Linked DNA regions of Homo sapiens: region 2 is linked to region 1. Evidence: fine-mapped expression QTL. Tissue or cell type: whole blood. Region 1 holds a variant in brackets; the other region holds the start of a gene. All regions are shown on one strand. Distances are from middle to middle.

Region 1 (16,024 bases):
CTGAAGCAGTTTCATTCAGCAAATGTAATTGCATCACAGGCACATCTCAAATTAGAAATCTTGATCTTGGTCTCTGTCATTTCCATTTTAAACTGGGACTGAATAACCTGTTTTGCCACTCAAAATAATAGCCAGTGTCTCTTTCTTATTAAAAAATGTGATCTTTTGCTTGATTACCTAATTATGTCACCTGCACCTTACATGAGGCAGATAGAAGAGTCTTCCAGTCTGCCAGAGCAGATCTACCAAACTAGACTGCACATACAAATTACCTGGGGATCCTGATAAATTGCAGATTCTGAGTCTGCTTTCAAACAAGTCCTCAAGTCATGCTGATGGTATTGGTCCCAGGATCCTCCATTGAGTAGCAAGTTCTTAGAATTAAAAAGTGGGCAAGTATAAGGCTGGGTGCAGTGGCTCACGCCTGTAATCCCAGCACTTTGGGAGGCCAAGGCGGGTGGATCACCTGAGGTCAGGAGTTCGAGACCAGCCTGCCCAACATGGTGAAACCCCGTCTCTACTAAAAATACAAAAAATTAGCCAGGTGTGGTGGCACACACCTATAATCCCAGCTACTCAGAAAGCTGAGGCAGAAGAATTGCTTGAACCTGGTAGGTGGAGGTTGCAGTGAGCCAAGATCACGCCATTGCACTCCAGCCTGGGCAACAACAGCAAAACTCCATTAAAAAAAAAAAAAGGCAAGTTTATAAACATGGAAACGTGGACAATTGTAAGCAATATTAGAGAACTGTAGAAAACAATTTTTTACGTGATATGTTTAACCTATTTACAATAAAACCCATTAGGGTCCTAGGAATTTCTGGAACTGCTTTACTTGTGAGAAACATGATCCTAAGATGCCCATTTGTTTATCAGTACATCAATTTTCTCCTTCTTAAATTGGTATAATTATTTTCTTCCAAGAAGCCTAGCACACTTTTGTTGCTGTCATTGAAAGAGGGCATATAAGGGTTATGGCTGCTATTTGGAGAAATGCATTAGAAAATAAAAAGCTTGAAAAAGTCATATTACTGAGAAAAATATTGAATGAAAATAAGAAAGATTAAACTGAAATAAATAATGAGTCAGTAAGGTATGCACTGTTAAACACTTGATGAGATTTCCCAAGTATTGACATGCTGATAACTTGAAATAATGGGAGAAAAGGTCAATCTGAATTCTTAAAATGTTGAAGGCTGGGAATAAGAAGTAATATATCACAGAATCTGATAGTAAAATTTTTATTTATTTTATGGGAGAAGAATGGGAGACTAACAGACAATAGGAATAGGAAAGAATTAATAGAAATAGCAAAAAGAAGTGTATCTGCAATTAGTAATATAATACAAGAGGAAATTGTGTAGAGATATTTAAAGAAAGATTGATGAAATTTAGATTTATGGAGAAATATCCTAATAAAGACATTATTTATAATCAACTGTTCATAATTATTATATAATTCTGGCAGTTTTTAGCATATAAATGTAAGGCAGAATGATCTAATATAAAATGTATAAATGGGACAACATATAATTCTGCTTAGGAAATTGAATAAATAAAGTAGTGATTTAGGATTTGCATTAATATAAAAAAATTTAAAAAATGGTTTACATTTTGTTTGAAAAGGATGATAAATAGGAAAAGAGCAATTTAGTACATTGGTCACCAAAGAAATACAAATTGAAACAATAAGATGCCTTCTCACATCTTTGCCAGATTTGTAGGTACAAAAACAGTGGTAGTTGTATTGGTTGGAGAACAGAAAGACGACACTTTCATATGCGGCTGATTAGAGCACACATTGGTATCATTATTTCTGAGATGCAATTTGAAAATATATACCATCAGCCTCAAAGATGATTATGACCATGTTTCACTACTTTCTTGGAAATCATTATTAATGCATGTATAGATTGATATTTACTGTAGTATTACTTAATATAGTGAGTTGAGTACAACCTTCACTCCCAAAAAACATGAGGTAGGGGTGAATTAGTTAAATATACAATCACAACGAGTTATAACAAAATGCATTTACTTAAAATCACACTTATAAGACTATTAATGGCAATAAACATGATTTGATATAATGTTTTAAAAAATTAGGGGAATTCTATTCCTAGCGTTGTGGTAGACTAGATTTGCTGAATCACTATCCTGCTATATAAAATCTGCAAATACCAGATAAAATGTACATGTCATTTTTCAAAAGTATATTACTGACTTGAATAGAAATTAAGGTGAACCACATAGGCCAAGCATAAGGAGAATACATAAATCCAGAGAGGTATGCAGACCCCCAAACCAGAGGCTTCCATAAGGACAGTCCTGGCCCTAGTACCCTGAGCTTCAATTTTTATGACCACCTGGAATATGGGAAAGTGTGAGACAAAACCTAGTGCCTGCCCAGTATAACAGTCTTACAGGAGAAAACTCCTGAAAGCCAGAGATACGAAGGACTATAATTTCAGTGAAAGGATAAACTAGATAAAAACCTGTTCCTCAGGGGGAGACAACCAGGAAATTTTCCTGCCTCAAACTCGGTGCTATTTAGAGGAAAAATTACAAGGCCATCTTCACATGAATTTGTGGTTTAAATTTTCACTGTAAGTGTAATTAAAAAAAAAAACCCGCACATCAAACTGATAATTTATTTTATCATTATCCCATGTTGGTATTACCTCCAAACACAAGACGAAGGCAAAGTGTCTTTGGAGAAACCCACATTCACCCCACGTCTCAAAGAATGGCCACAGGTAAAATTTCATCCAAAATGAGAAAAAACTAAGACTCTTAGAAAACTCATGAGGAAATAAACATCATGAGCAGAAAGAGAATTATGCCCATAAAGATTTCAGATATTAGAATGATTATATTACTATAAAAGCTATGTTTAATATGTTTAAAAAATCAATGAGGTGTGCCAGGAATATAAATTGAGACAGTGTGTGTATCTTATATTAAGCAGATTGAAACTGAATTTAAGAGATCTTTTAGAAATAAAAAATATAATGAAAATTAAAAACTAAATGGACAGGTTAAACACAATATTGGATAGAACCAAAAAGAAAATAAGTGAGTTGGAAGTTAGACTAAAAAAATTATGCTGAAGACAGTACAGAGGAGGAAAGGAAAATTGATATGTGAAATAGAGGTTGAAAAATTAGAGTATCTAATCAGATCTGCAAAAGAAAAATTGAATTGGGGAAAGGTTATATTTAAGGTTATATTTAATATCTGAGGGGTTTTCATCATTGGAATTTATTCATGTTCAAGGAAACCTGGAAAGTTTTCTAACACATTAAAGAGCTTTAATTATAAGTTCCAAATTCTTCTTAGAAGAAGAGAACCAGCAGGCCCAGACATTTTTACTGGTGAGTTCTATCAAATATTTTCAAGAAATGGATTATTTCCATTTTATAAGAACAACTCCAGAATAAAAAAAGGTCCATTTGTTAGTTCATTTTATGAGGCCAATACAATCTTGATACCAATGTTATACGAGAAATGTGTAAGACAGGAAGATTAGACGCCAACTTTCCTCATGAACCTAATGGCAAACATTTTAAATTAAAAGTTATAAAATTAAGTTTAGAAACCTATAAAAAAGATAATATAGTATGAAAATTGTGTTTATTCCATGAATGCAAGGATTTCTAACAATAGAAAAAAATCTATGTATAATTCATCACATTAACAAGTTAAAGGAGGAAAAGCAAATCATCATTGTAGGAGAGGCAAAAAGTGAATTCAATAAAATAAAAATTTAACTTTGACAAATCTTGCTTAACAAACAAGAAATAGAAGAGCTTTCAGTGTTTGCTTATAAATCAGAAACTATTCTTGGACTTTCAAGCAGAGTTGATTTAATACAGGTGACTGATTACACAAGTGATGGAAGCCAAATCAGGCTTGGTGAGTCAGCAGCTCAAGAGCAAGAAACCAGTACTGCCCCTAGGACTAGAACGATAATGGGAGAAGGTGCTGTTACCAGAGCCAAGAGGCCAGAACTTCAGGCAGGTTGCTAGAGATAATGGGAATTGGGTCCATAGCGGGAGGGGCTATCTGGTGGGAAGTAGCCCTACAGAGAAGAGGCAGGCTTTTACGGCATCTCTCACTGGATAGCTTACTGGGAAAATGGAGGGCAAAGGAGACTGGAAAATAAATGTTATTTTCCTGAAACATAGAACAGAGTTGGAGAGTAATTTGGGAGGGATGTGGGGGCAAATTTATCAGGACCCAAGACATGATTAAAGCAGGCAGGGAGAAGAGATGCTGGTCAAAGCAGGTGGACTTTGCTGATATTTCAAAGTCCTAGTTTTAAAACTTGGAGGTAGATACATTATTATCTTATTACTAATCAGATATTTTATACATATTTAATATATTTATATATTAAATATTTATACTTCAAAACTTCTACAAACACTGTAATCTCATTATTGTTTTCTATACTATTATATACAATATACAAATACAGAAATATAGAAATGTACCTCAGTTTGAAAGAGAATTTGAATATGAGGCAAAAAGATACCCCAAAATTATAGTTACATTACAAGAACTGAATTTAAGAAGGAAGAAGCAAATTGCAAGAGATAAGACCAAGCCTCTTTATTAATGATCGTTCTAAATCCAAGTGGTATAAATTTAGGGATGCACATCTGGATCGCAATGCAACTAAGAAAGCTTGTGTGTCAATAACCATATTTATCCTATGTGAAGAAATGATAGTTTCATAGGAGAAGGTTAATTGGCATGGAGTCTGTAAAAGAGAAGTTTGGATAGATGATTGAGCTATATATTTGTCAAATAATATCTAAAGGTAAAAAGAAATCTAGTTCACAGAGGCGAATCTCTGATTTTTAAATTTGCATTAACAGAAATAACATTGGAAGGGAGTATAGTAAGATTTTAATAGTGACTGTTTCTGCCAATGGTTTCTGTTTTATTGTTTACTATTTTCGGTATATTTCCAATGTTTCTTAAGAAGTGTTTATTATTTAAAAAATGAGAAAACAGCAATGAGTAATTCAGTAAAATAAAATGTTTCAAAATTGTGACTGCTATGATTATGAGCCAATTATGAAAGAAAGAGACACAGATAGAAATAGGGTGACCAATCTTTCAACTTAGGAATGAAGGATTTTCTGGATGGGGAATTTTTGTTGCTAAAATCAGGATAGTAGGGGACATATTGGGACTGTGGGAAAACCCTACAGGGATTTATTTCCTAACTATGAATTTCTATCTTGGTCTAGAGACATGACTGTTCTCATAAATAGGTAGAGTAGATGTGGTATCTCTGGAATGAGATTTAAAATCTTTACATAGCTTGCCCTATTAAAAGTAGACACATGCTTGTGAGAGAATATCATATGCTTTTGAAAGCTAATGTCTTAACTAATTCGCTGCGATCAAAGCTCTTGAAGACTGTGATGTAACAGAGATTCTTAGGTATCAGTGAAGATATGGAGATGAAAAAAGGGAAGTTGAAAAAAGAAGCTGAGAGATAAGCATGGAAATCATTTTCCAACCTCATTTTTCCAATCTCCATTTTCCTGTATTGAGAAGTGAAAATATGTTTTCTAGAGATAAAGTTCTAGAAATGAACTCTGACATAGATATTTTAAAACCAATTTCAGAAACAAAATAATATGTGCACCTAGAGTTGTAATTTATGTCCTTTTGTCTGTCTTTATCCTGTAGTTAAGTTTCCCTTGGGATCCCTTAGGGAAAATGGAGTAGTACATTTGACAAGGCAGGACTTCAATTTTCTCTCTCCTTTTCCTTCTTTCTTTCTTTCTTTTCTTTTTTTTTCTTTCTTTCTTTCTTTCTTTCTTTCTTTCTTTCTTTCTTTTCTTTCTTTCTTTTTCTCTCTTCTTTCTCTTTTTCTTCTTCTTTCTCTTTTTTCTTTCTTTCTTTTTTCTTTCTTCCTTTCCTTCCTTCCTTTTTCTTTTCTTTCCTTCTTTCTCTCTTTCTTTGTTCCTCTCTCTTGTTTTCTCTTCTCTCTCTTTCTTTCCCTTTCTTTCTTTCTTTCTTTCTTTCTTTCTTTCTTTCTTTCTTTCTTCTTTCTTTCTTTCTTTCTTTCTTTCTTCTTTCTCTCTTTCTCTCTCTCTCCCTCCCTCCCTTCCTTCCTTCCTTCCTTCCTTCCTTCCTTCCTTCCTCTTCTTCCTTTCTCCTTTTTTTTTTTTGAGATGATCTCGCTTTGTCACCCAGGCTAGAGTGCAGTGATGTGATCATAGCTTAATGCAGCCTCTCTCTCCTGGGCTCAAGCAATCCTCCCACCTCAGCTTCCAGAGTACCTGGGGCTACAGGTGCGTGCCACCATGCCCAGCTAAAGGATTTGAATTTTCTTACATATCTTGGCCCCATAGAGTGGTTCTAAACCTTGGCTGCACATGTTTATTACCTGAGAAAAGTTTAAAATAACCTAATGCTCAGGTCACACCCTAGACTTTAGGGGTGGGACAAGCATTAATATTTTTTAACTCTCTTAGAATTAAGACCCACTAATGTTTTAGCACTGCAATTCCTATAAAGAGTACAGATGTGAGTAGATTTGTTACAGTATTGTTGTATTCATCTGTTTTCATGCTGCTGATAAAGACATACCTGAGACTGGGCAATTTACAAAAGAAAGAGGTTTAATGGACGTACAATTCCACATGGGTGGGGAGGCCTTACAATCATGGTGGAGGACAAAGAGGAGCAAGTTACATCTTACATGGATGGCAGCAGGCAAAGAGAGAGCTTGTGCAGGGAAGCTTCCATTTTAAAAATGATCAGATCTCATGAGACTTACTCACTAACACAAGAACAGCACAGGAAAGACCCATCCTCATGATTCAATTATCTCCCACTGGGCCCCTCCCACAACATGTGGGAATTATGGGAGCTACAAGATGAGATTGGGTGTGGACACAGAGCCAAACCATTCAATTGTCATCACTCAAGGCAGATGAGCATATAGAAATCTATCAGTTGTAAGGAATTGGACTACGTTTAAGAGAATAATAATTAAGTTAGAAGAAATGTTTGGTCCTGCTTAAGGGCTAGGATAGATGAGGCACAATAGAATCATGTGGTGAGCTTTAAAAATGCCCAGGCCCTACTCTGTGTCAATTAAATCAGAATCCAAAATCTCTGCTTGAGTGTGTCTAGTGTATTGGTAAAAGAAAACAGTGATTTTGATATGCAGCCAGTTAAGAGCTGGTATCCTCAAGGATCATGATGTGACACAGCTGTTTCAGAAGGGTCAATCTCCATACTCACACTTTAGAAGAGAAGAAAAGGCAAAATGACAAAACAATCAAGCAAAAGGGCTGGAAGAGCTGGTAGATAACAGGGTGTCAACTTGAATTAATTCAGCTATTTGGTAAAGATTAGCTGGAGTAAAATTTTACTTAAAGAAATTCCAGTTAGTCAAATGGGATGAACATCCTTTTATGGAAACGATATCACGCTTTTTGAATGATCTGAGAAAGACTGGAAGCATTAGAGGTGAAGTATATCCATTTGCTCGATGGGAAAAGATTTTGTTTTATTTAATTTACATAATGTGATATGCTTGGCCACCTGGAGTAGTGCCTGAAAGGGGATGTAAAATGGAAAATGTAGTCAGTGAGACTGATTAATAACCATGGACAGAAAAATAGGCCAAGTGGAAAAACTTATTCACATAATTGTTTCATTTTGCTGACTGCAAAAGGATTTGTTTTGGAAGTGATTTCTGCTATTTAACCTAGTGGATTGATAGATC[A/T]CAGAAAGGTCTTAGAAATTACATTATGTAATTTTGTTCATAACATGAAATTAGCTTGAATCAAAAAATGTATACCATGTTTTGTATCTACCTTCTAAGACATTTGTCTTGAGAAATTAATGATTCTACAACATAAACAGTCATTGTGAAAGGAAGTAAACAGATAACAGAGGGCTTTCATAATAATCATGGACTCAAGATTATCAAATTTTAAAAAGACATACCTCATTTTCCTTTATTTAAACATAAAACAAATGAGAGGAAACAGAAATAGCTCATAATTTTATTTATCTGATAAAACATGCTGACATAAAATATAATTCATGCACCCAGTAAGAAAATCAAAAAATTAAATAAAGGTAAAAATGAAATATAAAATTCTCCTTCCTCTAGTTTCTTACCCCCAGACATCTAGAATCTCTCCTTAAGATAATCACTGTTGACAATTTCTTGAGTATCTTTTTAAAAATGACCTTAATACACATCCCCCACATAGAATATAGATCTTAAACAAGTTAGAAAATAAAATTTTATCTTTTAGTATTACACAAAATGATGTTCAGAACTACGCTTTGTATTTTTTTTTTTTCTAGAGACGAGGTCTCACTGTGTTGTCCAGGTTGGTCTCAGACTTCTGGGCTCAAGCAATCCTCCCGCCTCAGTCTACAAAAGTGTTGGGATTACAAGCATGAGATAAAGTCTCGCCTGGCCTAGGCTTTCTATTTTTGTTTACTAATTTACCTTCAAGATATTCTTACTTTTAAAAACTGTATTGTGTAAATATATTTTTTATTTAAACAATAGGCTACGAATAACATTAATAACATATCTTGGTTTATGTATTTTACAAGATTCTCCATGTGATAAATTCCAACCCGCGAAGTTGCTATAGAGCATATGAATTTAACATTTTTTAATTGCTGTGACCTAATATGATCCTAAAACATGGCCCTAGTTTATATTCCTATGAGAATGTCTAATACCTACAATCTTGCTAACATTGACTGCTATTGCATTTTAAAGACTCATTACTTTGATTGGATTGATGTTGAACATCTTCTGTTAATCCTGGCCATTTGCATTTCTTTTTCTACCTATTAATCTCCCTATGTATAGTATTGCATTATTTGTCTTTTTTGTCTCATCGATCGACAAAGATTAAAGTTATTGGCAGTAGGGAAAATGGAGAAAAAAATCAAAATTCAAATACCGTACAGTACGACATTTTGGAGAATAATTTGATTCTATATATTGAAGTTTAAATTGTTTTTAATCTTTGACCCAGTTATTCTATTTCTAGTAATTTTTCTACCCGAATAATAATACAGGAAAAAAACCTTTTAGAGAATATTCTTATGTTTGTGATACAATATTTACAGGCAACATAAATTCTCATCCAGAGATCAGAGTAAATATTATATAGTATATCTGTAGAATGAAATGTACCTTGCTGTTTAAATGAATAAATTAGTTATTATCATAAAATAAATGTCATGTAAAGACATTTATTTTGTGATATATACAATTAGAAAAACAAGTTATTAAAAATAACATGATTTTTTGTAAAATGTTTTTATTTTGTTTTTAATTGACATAATAATTGCACGTGTTTATGGGGTGCAGTGTGATGTTTTAGTGCATGTGTACATTGCATAATGATCAAATTTAAAAATTAATTGTATTGATAGGAAAAGTGTTTGGATATTTGTATACCTAAATGCTAACAGTGATGATCTCTGGAATGTGGAACTGCTGGTAGTTTTTCCCTTTTTCTTTTAGATATTTTTGTACTTATTTTTAATAATAAACATATACTAATTTTATAATAAAAATAACAATGAAGTCCTTTCCATTTTGAAAAATTAATTCCAATAGAAAAATATTGTACTCGAGCCACTTTCCAGGGTTTTCTTATTCTTAGTGCTGGTATAAGGTACCAGTGATATTATATTTTCAGATACATTTGGCTTTTCTGCCTTATGGTTGAAGATGAGCTTAGGAAGTTTTGCTGCCTAATTTTTGGGCGTTTGAGCCAATGCTTGGTGCACAAAAAGCACCACATCAACTTTAAAGAGAATATTCTGCTTCGTTAGACTGTATTCCCTACTTTTTATAGTATTTATTAGCACCAGAACTCTGTGACTGTTTCCCAAAGAACAAGAGAGAAAGATAAAGGAAAGTGAGAAGCAACAAAACTAGATTTAATTAATACTCTGGCTTGTCAGCAGCTTTCATGAAAGATTTGTTTGTTGAAGAAGTTGAACCTATCAGCTTAAACAGGGATTAACTCTGCCAACTCTGACAGAGCATGGACAATTAAGAGTTTATTGGAAATTAATTGAAAATAATACAGTGTTGTGAGATGGGAGGAAGATGATTTAAAGGAAATTATGCCAAGTGTTTTGAATCAGCCAAGGATAAACAAATGCAGACTATCATTTGATGGAGGTATTTTAAACTGATAACATGATTCGAAGTATAAGAATGGCAAATTGTGAAGAATGAATAAAATTACAGAGATAAATAGCAAAAATGTGAAACTAAAATAAAGAGGAACAGTGAGTAAATGGGGTTAGCTGAGAATATGGTTTAACAGGGCATACTGTATTCATTTATGAAGAAATTTCAATCCTCAAAATGCTACTCGTCTTAGTCTGTGTAGGCTACTGTAACAAAATACCATAAGCTGAGTAACTTATAAACAACAGAAATTTCTTACAGTTATGCAGGCTGGGAAGTCCAATATCAAGGCACATTTATCATCTGGGGTGAGGTCCACCCTTCTGGCTCATAGATGGCAACTTCCTGCTATATCCCCATACTTTGGAAGGGGCCAATGAGCTCTCTGGGATCTCTTTTATAAGGGCACAAATCCCATTCACGAGAATCTTGTCCTCATGACCTAATCACCTCCCCAAGGCTCTACCTCCTAACACGAATACCCTGGGGGTTAGGATTTCAATATACAAATTCGGGGGGACATAAACATTCAGTCTGTGACACTGCCATTTCGTCAGTAAGAATTTTCATGAACTCACTATTAAGATTTATGTTTATGTTTTTTATGCTGATGTTCTCACTTTATAATATTGTTTGTCTGCATAGTTTAAAGAAAAGGACAATGCCCAGTTAGAATAGGAGGTGTCTTTTGTTGGCCAGCAAAATATTTTAAGACACCTTGAGTGTAAATACATAAAGATCATTAAGGTAATATCATTTTGTTCTTGTTCTAGATCCACATGTTTCACTCAAGATCCCAGAGAGAAAACGTATGAAAACACATTAGAAGACAATAAACATCCTTACAATGCTAGCCAATGTTTATTATTGCTTTCTATGTGTGAGGAATTGTGTTAAGCACTTAAAAAGATGTCATCACTCATAATTATCATAACACCTGAAGAAGTAGGTGGTGTGATTTTCTCCAATTTAGATATTATAGGAACTGAAACAACTTGCCCACTAAACAGGCAATTGAAAGAGATAGGATTTCTATAGAAAATTCCCAGATCCACAGGTAGTGTTCCTATTCACATCATCAGTGTTCCCTTAGTGGTTTTGATATTACACCTAATACTATTTACTACACAATTAAAGCATCCACCCTATCATGGGATTTACTCTCAAGAATAGAGCACTGAGCGTGATAAATAGTATCCACTTTGGAATGCATGTTTCTATCCAGCTACTTAATATGATATAAGTTCATTGGACATTAAGGCCAGATTTCTTGACATGCTTTACCCTCAAATTAACAAGTTTGGCTCATTCAATTGTGGACCTTTAACCCTTAGGCCAGATAGTATATGAGTCCTAGAGTAGTGGAAAAAGGTAACTGAATTTACAAAATTTGACTCATCAAATTCTGTAATAATTCAATATATTGAGGAAACTTTAGGTGCATAGTAAAATTATAATTTCATATTGTTGCACAGACTCAGGCAGATGAAAGAGACTCCAATAGTGCTCATGTAGCACCCAGACAGTCAGTTGATCGTCTCTGTGCTGAAAGGATTTAAGAGTGAAGAATTTGCTCCAATGTATTTTTCAATATCTCATTGTTTTAAAATAATATTTGAAATAATACCTAGGAATCCAACTTACAAGGGATGTGAAGGACCTCTTCAAGGAGAAATACAAACCACTGCTCAAGGAAATGAAAGAGGACACAAACAAATGGAAGAACATTCCATGCTCATGGATAGGAAGAATCAATATCATGAAAATGGCCATACTGCCCAAGGTAATTTATAGATTCAATGCCATCCCCATGAAGCTACCAATGACTTTCTTCACAGAATTAGAAAAAACTACTTTAAAGTTCATATGGAACCAAAAAAAGAGCCTGCACTGCCAAGTCAATCCTAAGCAAAAAGAACAAAGCTGGAGGCATCATGTTACCTGACTTCAAACTATACTACAAGGCTACAGTAACCAAAACAGCATTGTACTGGTACCAAAACAGAGATATAGATCAATGGAACAGAACAGAGACCTCAGAAATAATACCACACATCTACAACCATCTGATCTTTGACAAACCTGACAAAAACAAGCAATGGGGAAAGGATTCCCTATTTAATAAATGGTGCTGGGAAAACTGGCTAGCCATATGTAGAAAGCTGAAACTGGATCTTACACCTTATACAAAAATTCATTCAAGATGGATTAAAGACTTGAATGTTAGACCTAAAACCATAAAAACCCTAGAAGAAAACCTAGGCAATACCATTCAGGACATAGGCATGGGCAAGGACTTCATATCTAAAACACCAAAAGCAATGGCAACTAAAGCCAAAATTGACAAATGGGATCTAATTAAACTAAAGAGCTTCTGCACAGCAAAAGAAACTACCATCAGAGTGAACATGCAACCTACAGAATGGGAGAAAATGTTTGCAATCTACTCATCCGACAAAGGGCTAATATCCGGAATCTACAAAGAACTCCAACAAATTTACAAGAAAAAAGCAAACAACCCCATCAAAATGTGGGCGAAGGATATGAACAGACACTTCTCAAAAGAAGACATCTGTGCAGCCAAAAAACACATGAAAAAATGCTCATCATCACTGGCCATCAGAGAAATGCAAATCAAAACCACAATGAGATACCATCTCACACCACTTAGAATGGCGATCATTAAAAAGTCAGGAAACAACAGGTGCTGGAGAGGATGTGGAGAAATAAGAACACTTTTACACTGTTGGTGGGACTGTAAACTAGTTCAACCATTGTGGAAGACAGTGTGGCGATTCCTCAAGGATCTAGAACTAGAAATACCATTTGACCTAGCCATCCCATTACTGGGTATATACCTAAAGGATTATTCATCATGCTGCTATAAAGACACATGCACACATATGTTTATTGCAGCACTATTCCCAATAGCAAAGACTTGGAACCAACCCAAATGTCCATCAATGATAGACTGGATTAAGAAAATGTGGCACATATACACCATGGAATACCATGCAGCCATAAAAAATGATGAGTTCATGTCCTTTGTAGGGACATGGATGAAGCTGGAAACCATCATTCTCAGGAAACTATTGCAAGGACAAAAAACCAAACACCGCATGTTCTCACTCATAGGTGGGAATTGAACAATGAGAACACATGGGCACAGGAAAGGGAACATCACACACTGGGGCCTGTTGTGGGGTCGGAGGCTGGGGGAGGGATAGCATTAGGAGATATACCTAATGTAAATGATGAGTTAATGGGTGCAGCACACCAGCATGGCACATGTATGAATATGTAACAAACCTGCACGTTGTGCACATGTACCCTAGAACTTAAAGTATGATAAAAAACAATTTAAAATATTCTGCAGGCACAGTGACTGTTTTGGCTTCTCTTAATTTACAAGGACCTTTGTCTTATAAGACTCTTTTTTTTAAGAGATGGGAATCTTGCTATGTTGTCCACTCTGGAGTGCAGTGGCTATTCACAGGCTTGATCATTGCATACTACAGTCTTGAACTCCTGGACTCAAGTCTCCCAGTGGCTGGGACTACAGGTGAGTGCCTACCACACCTGGCCTGATTTACAGATTTTTGACATCTATTATAGTTAAATGTATTTTCAGCATTTGCATATTAAAGGAATAATATTGATGCTTAACTTCATTAGTGATCAGGGAATTTCAAACTTAAAAAAATATTTTTTCATCCCTTATAGTATATTTAAAAATTCATTGCTGATAAGGATTCAGGGATGCCAACATTGTACATTGGTAGTGAGAATGTAAATTGGAAACTTTATGTAATCTGGCAGTATTTTTTTAAAAATCCTTTTGAACTTGCAGTTCTACTTTTGGGACTTGAATTTGTGGAAAGTAAAGCACCCGCGGGAAAGAATATTGTTGCCCCTTGAACAACATAGGGTTAGGGGAGCTGGCCTCCCACACAGTGAAAAATCCGCATACAACTTTTGACTCCGCCCAAACTATGAATAACCTATTGTTGACCAGAAGGCTTATTGATAACGTGTTACATTTAAGATATATTTTGCATGTTATGTGTATTATATACTGTATTCTTACAATAAACTAAGCTACAGAAAAGAAATCATAATCAAGAAAATTGTAAGGAAGAGAAAAATATATGACCCATTCATTAAGTGGAAGTGGATCATCCTAAAGGTCTTCATTATTGTTGTCTTCATGTTGAGTAGGCAGAGGAGGAGGAGGAGCTGGTCCTTCTGTCTTAGGGTAGCAGAAGTGGAAGAGGGGGACGGGATGGAAGGGGAAGCAGAAAAGGCAAGCACACTTGGTGAAACTTTACAAAAATACATCATTATTTCTGTCTATTTTGCTTTTTCATTTCTCTAAAAACATTTCGGTGTAGTACCCATCCGTCTTCCACCATTTGCCTTAGTTTTAGTTCCTGTATCATGGAAGGGTCTATGTCATAAAAGAAGTCAAAAGTAGTCTTGAATAATCAAAACCCTTTTGCCAGATTGTTGAATGCCAATTTGTTTTCTGGCACTGCTTTTCCTATGTCTTCTTCCTCATTATCTGGCACTGGTTAGGAAGTACTCATCTCCATCAAGTCATCTTTTGTTAATTCCTCTGGTGTGGTGTCTATTAGCTCTTAACTTCCTCTGAGATCCATATCTTGCAACCCTTCACTCCACACCTTTTTTTCCCTTCATATCCATACTTCTTTCCAGGGTTTTTTCTTAATTGGGTTTGTCATAATTCTGTAGTTATGCACAACATCTGGACACAAATTGTACTTCTGTCCAGCGGGAACTTATTGTTTTGAGTTTCATGGTTTTCATGACTTTTTCTATATCACCTGATGACATCTTCAAAGGTGTAAGCCTTCCAGACTTCCATGATGTTCTCTCTATTGGAGTTCTCTTTTGTAGTGTTGACAAACCTTTCCATAGAGTGCCATGTGCAGAGCCTTAAAGGTCCTTGTGACTCCCTTATCTAGAGGCTGAATTAGAGATGTGTTTGGGGGAAAAGGAGACCACTTCGGTGCCTTTGGTGTTGGACTCACGGGGTTCTGGGTGGCCAGGGGGCATTTTCCAATTAAACAACAACAAAAAAAATACTTTAAAAAGCAGTCCCTTACTGTCAAGGTACTTCTGACTTCAGGGACAAAGCGCTGATGGAACCAATCCAGAAAAAGCATTCTCATAGTCCAGGCCTTCTTGTTGTACAACCAAAAGACTGGAAACTAGTGTTTCTCTTTTCCCTCTCAAGACTCAGGGGATAGCAGCTTTATAGTTAAGGGCAGCCCTGATCATAAACCCGACTACATTTGCACAAAGCAGTAGAGTTAGCCTATCCCTTCCTGCCTTAAATCTTGGTGCTTGCTTCTCCTCCTTATGAATAAATGTCCTTTGGGGCTTCCCCCTCCCCCCCACCCCAGAATAGGGCACTTTCAGCTGCATTAATACCTGTTCAGGCAGATATCCTTTCTCCTCAATGTTTTTCTTAATGGCATTTGAGAATTCACTTGCTGGCTCTTGGTTGGCAGAAGTTGCTACTCCCATTATCCTGACATTTTTAAAACCAAACCACTTTCTAAAATTATCAAATCATCCTTTGCTGGCATTAAATTCTCCAGCTTTAGATCTTTCACCTTCCTTTTACTTTAAGTTGTCAAATAATGACTTCGCTATTTCTTGAATCAAATAAGAGTCTATAGGTATGTCTTTCTTATAGCAATTCTGTACCCACATAAAAGCTGCATTTTGAACATGAGATAAGAAAAGACAAGGTTTTCATGTCTGTTGGCATGAAAT
Region 2 (16,024 bases), 48 kb before region 1:
AAGTCTGAAAAACCCCAAATACTTCACTCACATCTTGGATATGCATAAAGCACACTAATATATAACATTCTAAAAAGCCAATCATTAAAACTGTTTTATATTGTTTAAGCATTTCCTAGACATATTTGGCTACAAATCTAATATCTAATTAAACAGTTTGGGAAATGCCATCACATAATGTAGGAATATTACTAGTCATTTAAGAAACTAGAAATATTTACTATATTCTAGGCAGTTGGCTAGGAGTTGGAGTTCTAGTCTCTAAACAAAATACTGACTTATTTCTGCGACTTTTTTTTTAATGTGACATCACTCTTTTAAGCAGCTCTGTGCTTAACAATTTTTTTTTCCTGGTTTGTTTTCCACTTTTGTCTGTACTTTATTCCTTCACAGATGTGAAAGGCTAACAAATGTAAACTAATTATATTAATCAGCCTCTGCCTTGGTTCTACACTTCAAATACAGTATATATTCTATCAACAATTCTTGGATAATAACAACCTGTACTTGTTTTTTAAACAATAAAACAGGCCGGGCGCCATGGCTGGCTCACGCCCGTAATCCCAACACTTTGGGAGGCCGAGGCGGGCAGATCACCTGAGGTCACCTGAGTTCGAGACCAACCTGGCCAATATGGTGAATTCCCGTCTCGACTAAGAATACAAAAAAATTAGCCGGCCGTGGTGGTGTGTGCCTGTAATCCCAGTTACTTGAGAGACTGAGACGGGAGAATCGTTTGAACCCGGGGGGCGGAGGTTGCAGCGAGCCAAGATCAGGCCACTGCACTCCAGCCTGGGCAACAAGAGCGAAAACTCCATCTCAAAAATAAAATAAACAATAAAACAATGATGAAAACACAAATAACTACAGCACTTCAGAGTTAGTTGACAAATCCACCTTTTCAATCTACATTTCAAAATGTTCAGAAAGACACCATCCTAGGGGAAGTCAACCAGCAGCAACCTCTCTGCTAATTTTTGTACACAGAAACTTGACCTGACTGCACAAAGGTTTCAATAGATGTCTCCCTCTAAAATTAATATTGAATGATTTGTCATCTTCCATTTAATACCAAGAGGGTATCAGCCACAAACTGAAATATCACTCATATGCAAATAAATAACATTCAAGACTTTTGTCATTGTGGTTATTAATCTTGTAATGGATGGACATAAATCTATTTACATTCTCATCCTATCCTCAAATTTCACTATCCTCTCCTCTTATTCTTACTTTGTTCTACTCATATTCTCACTCTATCCTCCTATGCGTAAAACGTTATGTATTCTAATGAACAGAGATGTCATTCGTGGGCAAGGAAAAAATACAATGAACTGCTCTTTGTGATAAAAACCATGATCTTGACACAGATGTTATCAATCAATAAACTTTACACAGCTTTACACTAAATTAATACAAACTGTTGATGAGTGGGCGGGGGGTGGTCACTAAGCAAACAGAAGCATGTAGATGTTAGGAAGCATGAGAAACATGTATCAGTGGATAGGGAAGGCAGCTCTCAAAGGCCAAGAATGTTAAGTTTCAGGTCTATATGGAAAAAGCTGTGGTCACATTTGAAGGCTTCTGAACAGATGAATGATTAATTTCATGCTTAAAGAGTTCAGGTGTAAATAAACTGGATGGATAAGAAACTCAAAATCAAGAATTTTAAGACACTAGGTTAAGGCGATTGATCTAAGTCAAAGCCAACAGGGCATGGGCTAAATGTTGACATGGGATGGGATGAAGAGGCCAACAGTGTTTCAAAGTAGAGGTTGGCAGAGCTTCAGGAACCAGAAGAGGAAGACTTGAGGTGAAATCTGAAACTGTAATCCCCATACCGGGCTCAAAAGATGTGATACTGACTAGGAAAAGGCTGGAGACAGAAGCTTCTTTTAAAGAGCTAAGAAGGGATTGTTTTAATGTGCTGGGGTTGAGGTGAAAATGACAAATACTCAGGTGGAAGTGTCCACCATTCAAGTAGGATAAATTGGAACAGAAAGCCCAACTTATGTCATGGTGAAATGAGGATAGTAAGTCTTGTTAATAAAAACACATCTTACTAGTCTTTCCTGGGGAACACGAAAGATGGAATTTCAGAAATTTAGAGAATGAAAAAGGAAAGATTACAAGGCAATAAGTTGATTAAAATAGACTAAAATAATCAGTGGCAGCTATCTTAAAGCAAGATATATCTTCTACAGCACAATCTACCCAAATGCAAATCTGGGCAGATAATTACAAAATATTTTTAGGATTGATAAAATTTCAGCTATATGTCTTTTTAAAAATGCTGCAGAGAGAAATGATGGGAAATTTACATGGATTTGCCAAATGTTTGCATAAGGATTCCACAGCCAACGTACATAATTTTCCAACTATTATGGTTAGCACTGGGCTCAGGCACTACCTTTGCCAACCAGCAGATTTTCAGTATTGCCCCTGGCAGACATCCCATTAGCAATCTCTCCCCATTCCCAAACATTCCCAACTATTCTAGCCATGCCAATTCAACCAATGTCCCTTAAGTCTTACATAAACATTGACTTACACTGAAATGTATCCTATGGCTCTTACTAACTGTAACTTACTTAAATCACCCAAGCCTCTGTTTTTCCTGCTATAAAACGTAAAACAGCTGACAAAATACTTATTTGTGTTTTTTGGAAACACGGGATAAAGCAAGGCAAGCAAAGAGAACAGCAGAGACGATGCTTAATAAATATCACTATAGGATCACCTTAATCCATGAAGAAAATGGAGTTTAAATTTTAATACAAAAAAACTCAATAAAGTTATACTTATGTTAAATTGGTGGTTATTTTAGGTCAGTGGTTTTAAAACTCAACAATGAAACTGTTTTCAAAAAGAGTTGTTATACAGAACAGAAAAAAGCAGCTGCAATTTTAAAAAAGATATGAAGACCCAGATTCTCACTAACTCATTCAGCTCCCTTCACACTCCCTCCCCACAGCCACCCCAGCTCCTGAGGCAGGTTCCCAGGACTCCAAGGAACACACTTTTAAAAAATCAATATTTTGAATATATAATAAGTGATATAACATAAAAGTATGGTGAGAAAGTCCCATTGCCAAGAGAAATATGTTAATTTTTTATTTAAAAAATCATCACTGTTTTCATTGTGACATCTTGAAGAACACTGAATGGCTTCAAAGTAACTGTATATGCCAAGATTTCTGGAGTGGGCACGTCTGATCTTTCATAATGAAAATTGACAAACCTTTTTAAGGGGATAGCATTGCTTCTTCACCCTCCCCCTCCTCACCCCTGCACACACATACACTTCTCCTTTCTGGGGAACTCCAAAGAAAACAAAGGCCCTTTAGCAATCAAGTAGATTGTCTCTCCTGATGGCATCCCATGAGTTATGGAATTACACACTGCGGGCCCAGGTGGATTAGGGCCCCTAGAAAGTTTGCTTGATCAACAGAGTGCTGTTGATTTTTTCAACTGAATTAATTACCCTTGGAGTCCAAACTCTCCACTGTGTCACAGTCCTCATCACGCCCTAGTATCTTAAATATTGCATTATCTGTCCCCTAAAAGTATTTGCACATGTGACCCAGAGAAGTGGACTTATAACTTGACTAGGCAACTTCTGTCACACTGGATTCGTATGAAATTCCACTGCAAGTGACATCACCAGATTGGGGACCCTGAAGTGTCTGAGTATCTTCTCCACATCTGGTCATTTAGGCCAGGAAATTCCTTCTTGTCTGCCAGGTCTTTTAGCATTCATTTTGTAAGTCATTCAACACCTACTTACTTAGAAGAATACTGGGCTAGACAGTGTGCTAGGGGCTGGGGAAACTGCAACGCATAGGAGAGAATTCCCATCTCCAAGAGGCTCACAGTCAAACAGACATAAATGGGCGATTACAATATACTGTAACGACATGGTTTTAGAAACACCTAGCAGAATCATACAGACGAAGATGCCAGGAAAGGCTTCTCAGAGAATCTGGCTTAGCAAATATCTTAACAAAGAGGGCTGAGCAGGGATGAGCCAAAGGAGAGGATGGAAAGCAGGTTGTGGGTGAGTTTTCCAGGCAGCATGTGCAAAGGCTCAGGAGAAAGAGGAAGGAGCCTGTGCTTTAAGGAATATTCCATTACTATTATTAGTGTCACGCGTGCTATTTATCTAGACGGAAGCTCCTGAAACAAAAAGGATACACTTCAAAAGATGCCAATATATCCATGACCACACAAAAGAGTGTCCAGTCATATAATAAAGGGTGTACATATGCAGGCAACACACATCCTGCCAAATATTAAATTTCTAATTTTATTATAATTTCTAATAAAACATTAGCTTTATTATTATACAGAGTCATACTCCTTAATTGGGAAACTCTCAACTTAATAAACATTCTTTAGTCTCATGTCTTTTCTAAAGGAAAGAAATTAATGTTATATTCTTGGGTGAAAAAAATGTGAGGTCTCAAAAGAGTATTAATACAATTTGGGGATGCATATATATTTTATATGTATATAGACACATAAAAATCTAAAAGAATAAATTTTAATATGTTAACAGAAGACAGAAGTCATGTATTTTTTACTTTCTTCTTTTTGGCGTATTTCTTCTTCTAACTTTTTTTTTATTTTTTTTTTTTACAAAACACAATTCTTATTTGTGTACTTTTAAAACCTCAGAGTTATACTTTCACAATACATTCCTGGCTGAAAGTTCACACTCGGAATTCCAGAGCAGTCCATGGCCAGGCCCACTGGGCTCCACTTGCTCTCTCCTTGGCTTTGGTAACCACTGGCCCCAGGGACTCAGCCTGCTTTCCTATCCATCCCCTCAGTAGCTGTCACCATGCAGGTTACCCCTTCTGTTCCTTCTACCACTAACTCCATGTCTGACTGCAAGTGAAAGGAACAGAAGCCCAAACCTTTGGGTTTTAAGGAGTTTATTGCTAATCAGTAAAACAGAAAGAGACAGAAGATAAGTATGACAAAGTATAGGGAAGAAATGACTTTTGCCTAAACTTCCAAATTGTGTACAATTGAAGCCTCTGCTTTATAGTTCTTAGCACACCTCTCAAATAAGAAGGCAGTACTGGGAAGGCTCTGAACCTGTGGCAGAACCACTGATAGCTGTGGAGCTATTCCAAGGAGTCTGGGAATCAGGGGGATTATCAAGATCATTGCTAGAATAAATTAATCTTACCGTATATATAGCACAAGTTTTCAAGCATATGTAAATGCTACTTATAACCAAATAATTACACCTTGTTTTTCTTTAAACTGTAACTCTCAATTATGTCTCTACATAATTTTTTGATGGTAAAGTGTCTGCATGCTCAAAAAGCTTGAAAACACTAATGGAGAAGAAGGAGGTCTCAGGAGTGTGATGGAACAGGTTTACATGGCAGCTTCAACATTTAATTGATGAAAGTGACTATGTGTCTTAAACTCTCTGAGCCTCAGTTTGCACATCCAAAAGCAAGGATATAATTCCATGAACCTTTCCACCTCAAGTCCACAAGGCAGAATAGCAAGATGTTAACTGCCACTCTGAGGACCACCAAATAAAAGGACAATTTATTAGGCCACTTGCCAGCATGGACACAATCGCCTCTTGGCATTTCTTATTATCCACAGAAAAATTAAAAGTATAAATGTAGAACAAAATTATTATTTTTTTTTAATAGTAACATGTAAGATCAATCTTTGTCTTTAAAATACCATGTATCTCATTCTTGGAAAGCATCAAAAAGAAAACGGTATAGTAAGTTTTATCTACAACTTGAATTAAAATTATTCTTGAAATATGTTCTTAATGGTTAGATGAAATGGTAGTTAAATACAAATAGAGATAATCATATACTCTCTCTCCATAAGGCTCCCACCTCCTTCAATAAAGTCTAGTTCACCTAAAATGATACTATTAATTCAATATTACAAGTTGATAAGCACATTAAATCAAAACACAGCAAGATTATTTTAAGAGTCTGACTGAAATGTCAGGATAAGAAATAGATTAATAAATATTGGTTTATAATGTCGGTAATGAAAACAAATACGTTATTTTCAGAAAATAAAAGGTATTCGCCATTAGGTACAAATCATAAAGGGATTATCTACGGTTACTACACTGTAACAACTTTTTACATATTGTATTTTAGAACAAGCTTTTGAGAAGACAAAGCAACACATCAGCAGTTTAACCAATTGTCTTTCTCTTTTAACAGGCTGGTCTACATTAGATTAGATATAAAAGGCTCAGGTACACTTGTGCTCGATCTTAGCCAAATGGCTGAGAAACAGCCAGGTACATTTAAATCAGTGACAAAAGAAAACACTATCCTTTAATAAAATTACATAAAATAGGAAACATCTCTTACTTTAAGAGCAACCATGGTACTTCTTCCTATGGTGAAAACTGATGTTATCTCGCTTAATTATTCATCCCAACACCTGGCCTTGCTCCCTTTTCCACCTCTAGCTATGTTAACACTAGAGTCCAATAATTTGCTGATAAAGAATCTTAACTGCAGTATCTAACAGATCTTAGTGATTAAGCATATGATTTACCCTTTGATTGTACAGATAAGTAAACTGAGGCCAAAAGAACTGAGGTATCTTATTAAAAATCAGAAAGCTAGTTACTTGAAAAGCCCACCTGTCCTTCCTGTCCACATGTCTCACCAGAAAAACAGCAATAGTGAAAAGTCAACTCTGTTTTTAATGGGCCACTTTGTATATTTTAACTGTTAAAATAATCCAAGAGGATATTAGTCATATACGAAGATCCTTTAGATATAATGTGTAGGACCAGCGTTAATTTAATCAACCAAGTCTCCTCTCATTGAATTATTAATTCATAATTACAAAGATGACATTACAGTAAATTAAGAAATACTGTAATTTCATTCTCTCCCAAAAAGTATACACTTAAGTTTGGTGATTCACTGTTATATTTTCAACTAGTAAATCAATGTGCTAATTCTGGGGCTTAGGTATATTGCATATACTGGAATGATATTCACTTTAAATGTTTTGAGATGTATAATGTAATACAGATCCTACGTGTTTTTAAAAGTTCACATCAATTTCAAGCTTTTAAAAATGTATGTACACAAGAAAGCTTCTTTTGCAATTTATATGTTTATAAATGTTTCCATTAGCTAAGATATATTTTGGAATGTGATCAAACAATATTGAATGTCAAGTCCTAACAGCAGGGCTGGTCTAAGGAATTCCCTCTAAGCTAAATCTGGTACTTCTCATATGTGGCTACTGCTCTTTTAAACTACTGTGTCCCTAAAGGGCTAAAAGGAAGAAAATCCTAACTCAACAAGTGAAGGTAGCAAGGCATAGTATTTGAATGGCTACCTTTCATTTTAACTCTACTTCCTAAATTCAAAATTGGATTTGGGTTTGTTTCAAGTTGTTCACAATTTACTAACGAAATGTGCATCTCTCATTCTTCCCCCAAAAGAAAGAAGTCATCCACTCCAGCTACATATAAGTCTCCAATTTCTATACGTGAAAACCGAAATACCACTCATTGAAAAAAAAATGTACAGAGAATTGGCAGGCTGCATGTTTATGTAAACCTTCAGAAAACATGGAAACACGCAGCCCCAACTCACCAGGAAAATCAACACTTCTGATCAAACTATTTTGTGACATTTTATGTCTTTTATACATTTCACTTCATATCCAGTATTCCAGTTTTGCACCGGCGTGCCTGTATCAACCCCAAATCGCCTGAGAGCAATCTAGTACTGTAGCAGAACAGTTTCAACATGAAGAGTTCTGCTCATTGCCTGTGGCGTGGTCCTCGAAACACCTGAATCAAACATTGATTCCCCTCCTCCTGCTATTTAAAACCGAGGGACGTCAGGCTTGGGTAGCAGGTAAAGAAAAGCCACAATAATCAAACAAACAAGCAACCAAAATACCCGAACACGGAACACGCTAAGAACAAAGGAAACACAAGAGTGTGAACAGGAAATGAAGCAACTCTATACACATAAATACCTTCTGGGGCCGCCAACGTAGGTAAAAGTAAAGGTGGAGTCAGAGTATCTGAAATCTGAAACAGAAAGTCCCGTCAAAAGCTACCCCTGGAGTGGATTTGTTTTAACCCCGATCAGGACTTGAGCCCCACATTCGGTGGTGTCAGGGGAGGCCTGGCCGGGCAGAAGGCAAGGGCTAGAGGGCGGCGAGGTCCCTCTGCGCCGCGTCCGAGGGGATGCGGCGCGCCCCCGACTGGGTGCAGCGGGAGGCCGCCCCCCGCAACAAGTGCCGGGTGCCATGGCAACAGCGGGAATTTCCCGATAGGGGAGGCCGGAAGCAGCCTCAGCCGGGCTCGCGGTAGCGAAAGCAAAATCCCGGGGGAGCAAAATGGACGAAAGGCGACCCCCAGGCAGGGGCGCTGGGTGCCTTGGGAATCCGAGGAATCCCTTCTCTTTGCCAGTCGGAGGGGACTAGAGGGAGCCGAAGGGGCCGGAGATGGGCCGAGCGCTGCCCCCCGGGGGTCCTCGGCGCCGGGCGCAGCTTACAAGCGCAGCGCAGCGCAGCAGGCTCCATTCCCGGCCGCCGCCGCTCAGCCCATTGCGCAAACCAACCCCGCTCTGCCGCCGCTGCTGGAACCCAGGAAGCGTGCTTGGAGGCTTCGGGCACTACGCGGGGCTGGAAATACCACGCACTGCCCCTTCGCCTAGACCCCCGCTCCGGCCACGCGGGCTCTGCCCTCAAAGCTGGTGGCTGCCTCAGACTTGGCGGTGGGGGAGGGGAAGGGGAGAGGCTGGCGCCCCCTCCCCCTTTTGGCTCCCGCGCTCGTTGCAGCAGCTGTTGCCAAATGAACCCCAGAATGGGGACGTGCAACCCTCCACCCCACCCCCAGCCACAGACGTCGCGGTCAGAAAACTGGGAAGGGGGCGCTGGGTCCGAGGTTCTGGAAAAGCAAGAACTCACCTGCAAACAGGCAGTCCTTCTCAGCTCTGGACTTCTGGATCACGACGTCGATATCCTTCTGAATTCGCTCTTGCCTTGAACACATCCCCATTAAATAAATCCCTGGAAAAGAAGCAGCCGCTATTTCCACCCCACCCCACCCCCCTCGCACGCTTCCAGCTTTCGTAAATATTCAGTTAAAAATGAAACCTCTGGCCGAGGCAGGGGCTGAAGGCGAAGTGGTTTCGGAAGTGATCCTGGGTGAGAGAAGAGGAGGAGGAGGAGGGGGAGGAGGAGGAGGAGGGGGAGGTCGGCTTTGCATTCCCAGATGTGACCGCCCAGCTGCTGCTCGCCGCTGCTGGATTCCAATTTCCTCCCCTTCTGACAATGGATGGTGATGACACCAAGTCTCACTTTCTCCCTCACCCGCCCGGACCAACGGCCGTGGGGGCCGAGGTGCCGGGGACAGCCAGAGAGCAATCACCGGCTGGGCGGCGGGCGCCGGCGAGGGGCGAGCCCCGCTCCGGCTCACGCGCGCACACCCCTCACGGCTCGCACGCCGGCCTTCCACACCCGCGCACACTCGCGCCCGCGGGCGGCGGCAGCCGTGCCCAGGCTGCTGCAGCGCCGCCCGCCCGCCGCAGACCCTCCGCGCCCGCCGCCTAGTCACCCCGCCGGCCGCGGGCTGCCGGGGCTCGCAGAGTATTAGCCATCCCGGGCGGGAGCCGCTTCTCCCCACACCGACCTCCACTCGCGCCGGGAGCTGAGCGGTCGTGAAGACTCCCTGGGGCTCCCAGCCTTCCCTCTCCGCGCCCCTCCCCCCATCACTTTTATGAATTCGACTCCACTTTCTAAAGGAATTATAGTCTTGTGGCAAACCCAAACCGGAGTGGCTGGGAGGGGGAAAAGGGGGGAAAAGAAAATCTTTAAAAATTAAAAAAATAATAAAACGAACAAATCTTTCCTTATTGCCACATCACATAACACGGAAAAGGCCTTAAAATTACTCCAGACGTGCACCCTCCCCTTCCCTCAGTGCCTGAGTCTTTTTCCTCCAGATCGAAGTAGTTCAGCCCTTTTGGGGCGCCGTTTACGAAACACAGCCCCTTTTGAGGGACTTCCTCCTCTTGAAACTCACCAGTTCTCCCTTCCTAGGTGTTTCTGTTCATGAGAAATGGTCAGAATCAACTGGCACGTTCCAGGGTCTTCCTAAAAGATGGAAACCTGTTTGGCTTGATTTTTAAAACCACCTCCTTTGACAGTCAAGGGAAAGCTACAATCCAGGTGTTCAGAAATGAGATACTGCTCTGATTCTCACTTTCTGTTCTGCCTAAGGACACCCCAGGCTGACGTAGCTGCCCCACCTCTATATTGGTTTATGCCCTAGGAGAGGTCTCCAGCAGGCACTTTTCTTGTTGATCTTTTCTCCACTGAGAAGGCTCCCGCCAGTAGACCATGACTCCTTTTGCTTTGCATACTCAGTGCCATGTACAGTGCCTGGAATACAGGAGGGTGGCCTAAATGTTGGCTGAATGCACGAATGGTCATTTCTTGCAGCCTCTTTTCATTACCCTGTCTCATCACTTTTCTTATCAGCATAAGTGCCCAAGAGTTGCCAAACTGTTTCAGACCCTTAATCAATTTAGTTCTGATTCTGACCGTGACAACATGATGTTCAGCACGGTAGGAATGACTGCCATCCCTGAAGGAGTCTTAAGATTCTGTAGAATCAATGAAAGATCCTATGTTCTAACTCCTTTATCTTTCAGGAAACAAATTACAAAATAATTTCCTTGTCCAGTCATATTCACTATGAGTTACAAAAGGAAACATTCTGCATTATTGAGATCCACTGCAGCCTTTGATGTAGTAAAGCCACAGTCACAACAGTCTATATCTCCTGCTCAGTCCTCTCCTGAAATGCTTCCTGTTTAGGGTAGGACAGGTTCAAGCCCTTTGTCCTTCCTGGATATGTTGCTTTGTGTAGGCCCTTTGGCTGCCAAAAATGCTCTCTTCTCTTCCACATCACCACTGAGAATCATGAGTATTTCTTCTTCCATTATGTGCTTTAATTTCTCTGAAAGGCTGAAAGTCTATTAACTCACAAGAATTTATTTTATAGTTATCTAGCCACAAGGCTTGCATCTTCCAAGTAGAACCCTTACTACAAATAAATGTGAAATAGTTTTAAAGCTACCAAATATTTTTTTGTCTGGATGAGCTCTTAGTTTACTACTCACTCCTTAAAATAGGCCTTCTTGTGACTTGTCCTATATTTGATTTTTTTTTAAGCTTCATGGGCTGCCCTGTTTTGGTTAAACAAAGCTAACCTCACCCTGTTCATGCCCTTAAGGTGTGATGTATTTAATAAATATTTGTACATTTGAAGGAGTAAGATTAAAAAATAAAAACCTATCTAGTATGTATTTCTGCAAGATAAATTTCTCTAATTAAAAACTATACCAACGTAGATCCTTCCAAGGATCTTCCAGGCTAGATCCTTATGGAGCACTTTGCTCAAAGTAAGTCAGCCCATATCCAGGATCCTTTCTTTACCTTGCCCCATCTCCGAATATTTAAATGTTTATATTATGTGTGCTCAACATACTTCCCTTATCAAAAACTATATGCGCCTTTGAGATGAAACAGTTCTATCTCTCCTTAAACACTCATGAGTATACAACATACACACACATGCATTCAGGAACGTGGCACATAAGAGGCCCTTCACCAATTTGTTAAATAAATAAAATCAATATTTACAGTGAGGGAGAACTCAGGTGGTATCCCAAACTAAATTGAAGATAATAATCTACATGTTGGATGATAGACTCTACTGAAAAAATTCCACCGGTTTAGAATAATGATTCAAAGCCACCAGATATAATTTATTAGTGAAAAATATAAATTTTTTGCCTGTGCCAAAAGGCCCAACTGCGGAAGTATAAGGTAATGGACATGCGGCATTAAGTTCAATAATGTGATGTGGGTATTAATAACTAACATTTATCCAGAACTTAATATTTATCCAGAACTTATCCAGAATTCATTAACATTTATCCAGAACTGGTAGAAACTGTTCTAAAAGCTTTACATATAGTTACTCATTTAATATTCACAATAACCCGTATATACTAGCTGTTATTTTTCTCATTTTACAAAAGAGGAAACAGGCTCAAAGGGGTTAATTCATCTAAGGTGAGACATGGACTACAAGAAGTTTTTTTCTCTCTTGAAACCTTTCAGCAATTGAATTGAACTTAAAGGAATAAATATGTACAGAAGCCACACGAGGAAGTAAACCGCCCCGCCAATGGCTGCAGGCCAGGAGTGAAGCCGACAAGAAGCCCTATGATGGATTTTGAGGAGGGCTGAAGCCTGTGGACTCTCAAAATAGCCTCTGCTAGTGGCAGTTATATTTCCCTTTCTTGCATTCAACTTCCTTTCCCAAATGACCCAGCCATTAGTACAGTCTTAAGAAAAGTACAAGCCTGACCTCTGCTATTCCATGGTTATTAAGAAGAGGATAGGAGGCAGGATTAGCAAAGAGGGGAACAGCCTTCTTTGCCATATGCATGATAGTGTCATCAGTGGTAAATGCCCATGGGAATGCCTACCATCCTTGCTGGGATGTGGAAACAGCACTGGGACAGTTTGCTTTTGTGGCAGAATCAGTGAAGGAGGGACAAGGTAGGGGCCGAGGCATTGCTGTGAGAAGACACCACAAAGGGCCTTTAAACAAAGGTGAGGAAGTGGGATTTCATCTGAGAAAAATGGAGAGCCACTGGAAGGAAGATGATCTGAAAAGTTCTTTCTAATTATGAGATTGATATAGCTTCTGCTTGCGGTGGTTCTGTAATGGAAAGAAATCCGTAAAATTCAAAATGCCTGCTAAGGGCCCAACTACCTTCTTCTAAGTAGAGGGACGTGTGCAATTCTTTCCTTATAAAGCTGCTTGGCTGGTGTGGTGGCTCATGCCTGTAATCCCAGCACTTTGGGAGGTTGAGGTGGGAGGGTTGCTTGAGGTCAGGAGTTCAAAACCAGCCTTGGCAATATTGCAAGACCCCTGTCTCTACAAAAAATAAAATAAAAATTAGCTGGGCATGTGGGTGAATACCTGTAGTGCTAGCTACTTGGGAGGATCTCTTGAGCACAGGAGTTTGAGGCTGCAGTGTACTGTAACTATACCACTGCACTCTAGTTGAGATGACAGAGGGAGACCCTGTTTCTTAAAAAAGAAAAGAAAAAGCTGCCTTTGGAAACTAATCCTACTTTTCTGACCTCTTCTGATAGGTCTACTGTAAAAAACCAAAGTCAACTTTGAATAAACTTGACAAGCTGAAGGAGAACTTTAGGTGATGTTTTGTGGATTTGTCACATTTTGGTTCTTACCATACCCCCCGTTAGGTTACTAAGGTCAAATGTGACGGCACAGGGGTGGTGTTGAGGTTTTATGGCCCTTTCTAGCATCTTAACTAACCTAGGTAATACTAAAGCTACAGGATGAAACCTTAACTCTTCTTTCTAGTTCCAAATTTCACTTTAATTTAGATCCATTTTTCCTGTAAAATTTTAATTCCCCTTTCTACCTAGAAGCATTCTAGACCATAATTAGATGAGATGCCTCACTGTGCCATGCAAACAAACTCATTCTTAGCTTGTATTCATTCATATTAATTCCTTCTTTTGAATACCTCTTTTTCTTTTTCTTAGAAAGTACATAAATACTATATGAATATATTCTCAGCGCAAATGATTTAAGACATATATTAGTACATAAAGTAAAATGTGAAAATTCTTACCTATCCTGACCCCTAATTTCACTCTTCGTCCCAGAGGTAACTAGTGTTAATAACTTTGTGGGAATGTCTTGCATTACTGCATTCTCATATCTTCACACAGATGTACATATGTTGACAGATTTATACATATAAATTTTAATTTAGGTTGGGCACAGTAGCTCATGCCTATAATCCCAGCACTTTGGGAGGCCAAGGTGGGTGGATTGCTTGAGGTGAGGAGTGCGAGACCAGCCTGGGTAACGTGGCGAAACCTCGTTTCTACTAAAAATACAAAAATTAGCCAGGTGTGGTGGCATATACCTGTAGTCCCAGCTACTCAGGAGGCTGGGACCTAAGAATTGCTTGAACCCAGGAAGCAAAGGTTGCAGTGAGCCAAGGTCAGGCCACTGCACTCCAGCCTGGGTGACACAGTGACTCTGTCTCAAAAAATAATAATAATAATTTAATGGAACTACATAATATATATTGTTTTACAACTTGATTTTTTTTTTTTTTTGAGATGGAGTTTTGCTGTGTTGCCAGGCTGGAGTGCAGTGGCATGATCTCAGCTCACTGCAACCTCCACCTCTCGGGTTCAAGCAATTCCCTTGCCTCAGCCTCCCAAGTAGCTGGTACTACAGGCGTGCACCACCACACCTGGCTAGTTTTTTGCATTTTAGTAGAGACGGGGTTTCACCATGTTTGCCAGGATGATCTCCATCTCCTGACCTCATGATCCATCCCGCTCGGCCTCCCAAAGTGCTGGGATTACAGGCATGAGCCACCGCGCCTGGCCACAACTTAATTTTTCTACTTGTCTTGAAGAGCTTTTTTTCTTTGTCATGGAAAGAGATCTAGCTCATTCTGTTTAGCCACTGCAGAGAATGATATTGAATGAATGCAGTATAATAAGTGTTAACCGTACTTCTGCAATCATGTTGGCTTTTGCAAAATGTTTTGTGATTAAAACAATTTACAACAAATGCACAACTTTATGCACAGTTTCAGCAGTTTCTTTGGGAAGTGAATTGACTGGCTCACAGGGAACTGGCTGGCTCACAGGGAACTGGCAAATTTAAAAATTTGATAGATACAAGCAAATTGCTCTCAAATTTACTTTATCATTTTATACTCCACTGTTTTTGAGAATACCTAATTCCCTGCAACATTCCCAACAGTATATACCATTCGTCTTTAATTTTTTTTCAACCAGCTAGGTGTAAAGTATTCATCTTGTTTTTGTCTGTAATTCCCTGATTATTAATGATATTGAGCATTTTTTCAAGTGTTTATTGACAGTTTGTATAGTCTCTGTATGATTGCCTGTCATTTCCTCTATTTTTTAATTGAATTTTTTTGTTTGTATTATTTATTTGTAGGAAGTTTTTATATATTCTAGATAGCAATTCATTTTCTGTTATAGATACTCTTTACTTACACAAAAGCCTTAAATTTTTATTTGTTAGAAAATTTAAAAAAATACACTTTGGGAGGCCGAGGCAGGCAAATTACCTGAGTTGCAGGAGTTCGAGACCAGCCTGGTCAACATGACGAAACCCCGTCTTTACTAAAAATACAAAAATTAGCTGGGCATGGTGGTGTGCCCCTGTAGTCCCAGTTACTCAGGAGGCTGAGGCAGGAGAATCACTTGAACCCGGGAGACGGAGTTTGCAGTGAACCGAGATCACGCCATTGCACTCCAGCCTGGGTGACAGAGGGAGACTCCATCTTAAAAAATAAAAATAAAGAAAAAAGAAAGAAAAAGAAAAGAAAAGAAAGAAAAGAAAAAAAATTTTTAAGCCAACTCCAGACCAAATGCTACCTTATTCAAAAAAATCTGTCTTGATTTTTCCAACTCGCTAATCTTCCCTCATCCTTGAACTCCCCATTTCTAGACTATAAGTTCCTTGCATGCAGGAACTGTTTTTATTGATCTTTGTAACCATGGAAGAGGCTACCATAGAGACTATCTTAACACACGAATGGTCCCCAACTTATGATAGCTCGACTTTAGATTTTATAACTTTACAGTGGTGTCAAAGCAATACACATTCAGTGGAAACCTTACTTCAAGTGCCCATACAATCATTCTGTTTTTCATTTTCAGTACAGTATTCAAAAATTACATGATATATTCAACACTTAATTATAAAATAGGCTTTGTATTAGATGATTTTGCCCAACTATAGGCAAATGGAAGTATTCTGAGCACATTTAAGGTAGGCTAGGCTAAACAATGATGCTCAGTACGTTTGTATTTTAAATGCATTTTCTCCTTTTGATATTTTCAACTTATGATGAGTTTACTG

Evidence for each region. PIP is the estimated chance that this variant, and not a neighbour inherited with it, causes the effect.
Region 2: PARP8 starts here. The variant in region 1 is fine-mapped to the expression of PARP8 in whole blood (INTERVAL, PIP 0.98).

Annotation. Positions count from the first base shown.
Region 1 is chr5:50,611,812-50,627,835 of GRCh38, reverse strand. No RefSeq gene overlaps it. Among named protein-coding and RNA genes, the nearest start is that of PARP8, 47 kb to the left of the region's middle. The variant A/T (reference allele first, on the strand shown) is at 7,763.
Region 2 is chr5:50,660,118-50,676,141 of GRCh38, reverse strand. PARP8 (poly(ADP-ribose) polymerase family member 8) reads right to left here and starts at 9,505. Exons shown (of 26, transcript NM_024615.4): 1 at 8,956-9,505; 2 at 8,017-8,071. The coding sequence starts at 9,046. RefSeq lists silencers at 8,381-8,710, 9,403-9,462, 9,513-9,662 and enhancers at 7,683-8,882, 8,318-9,230.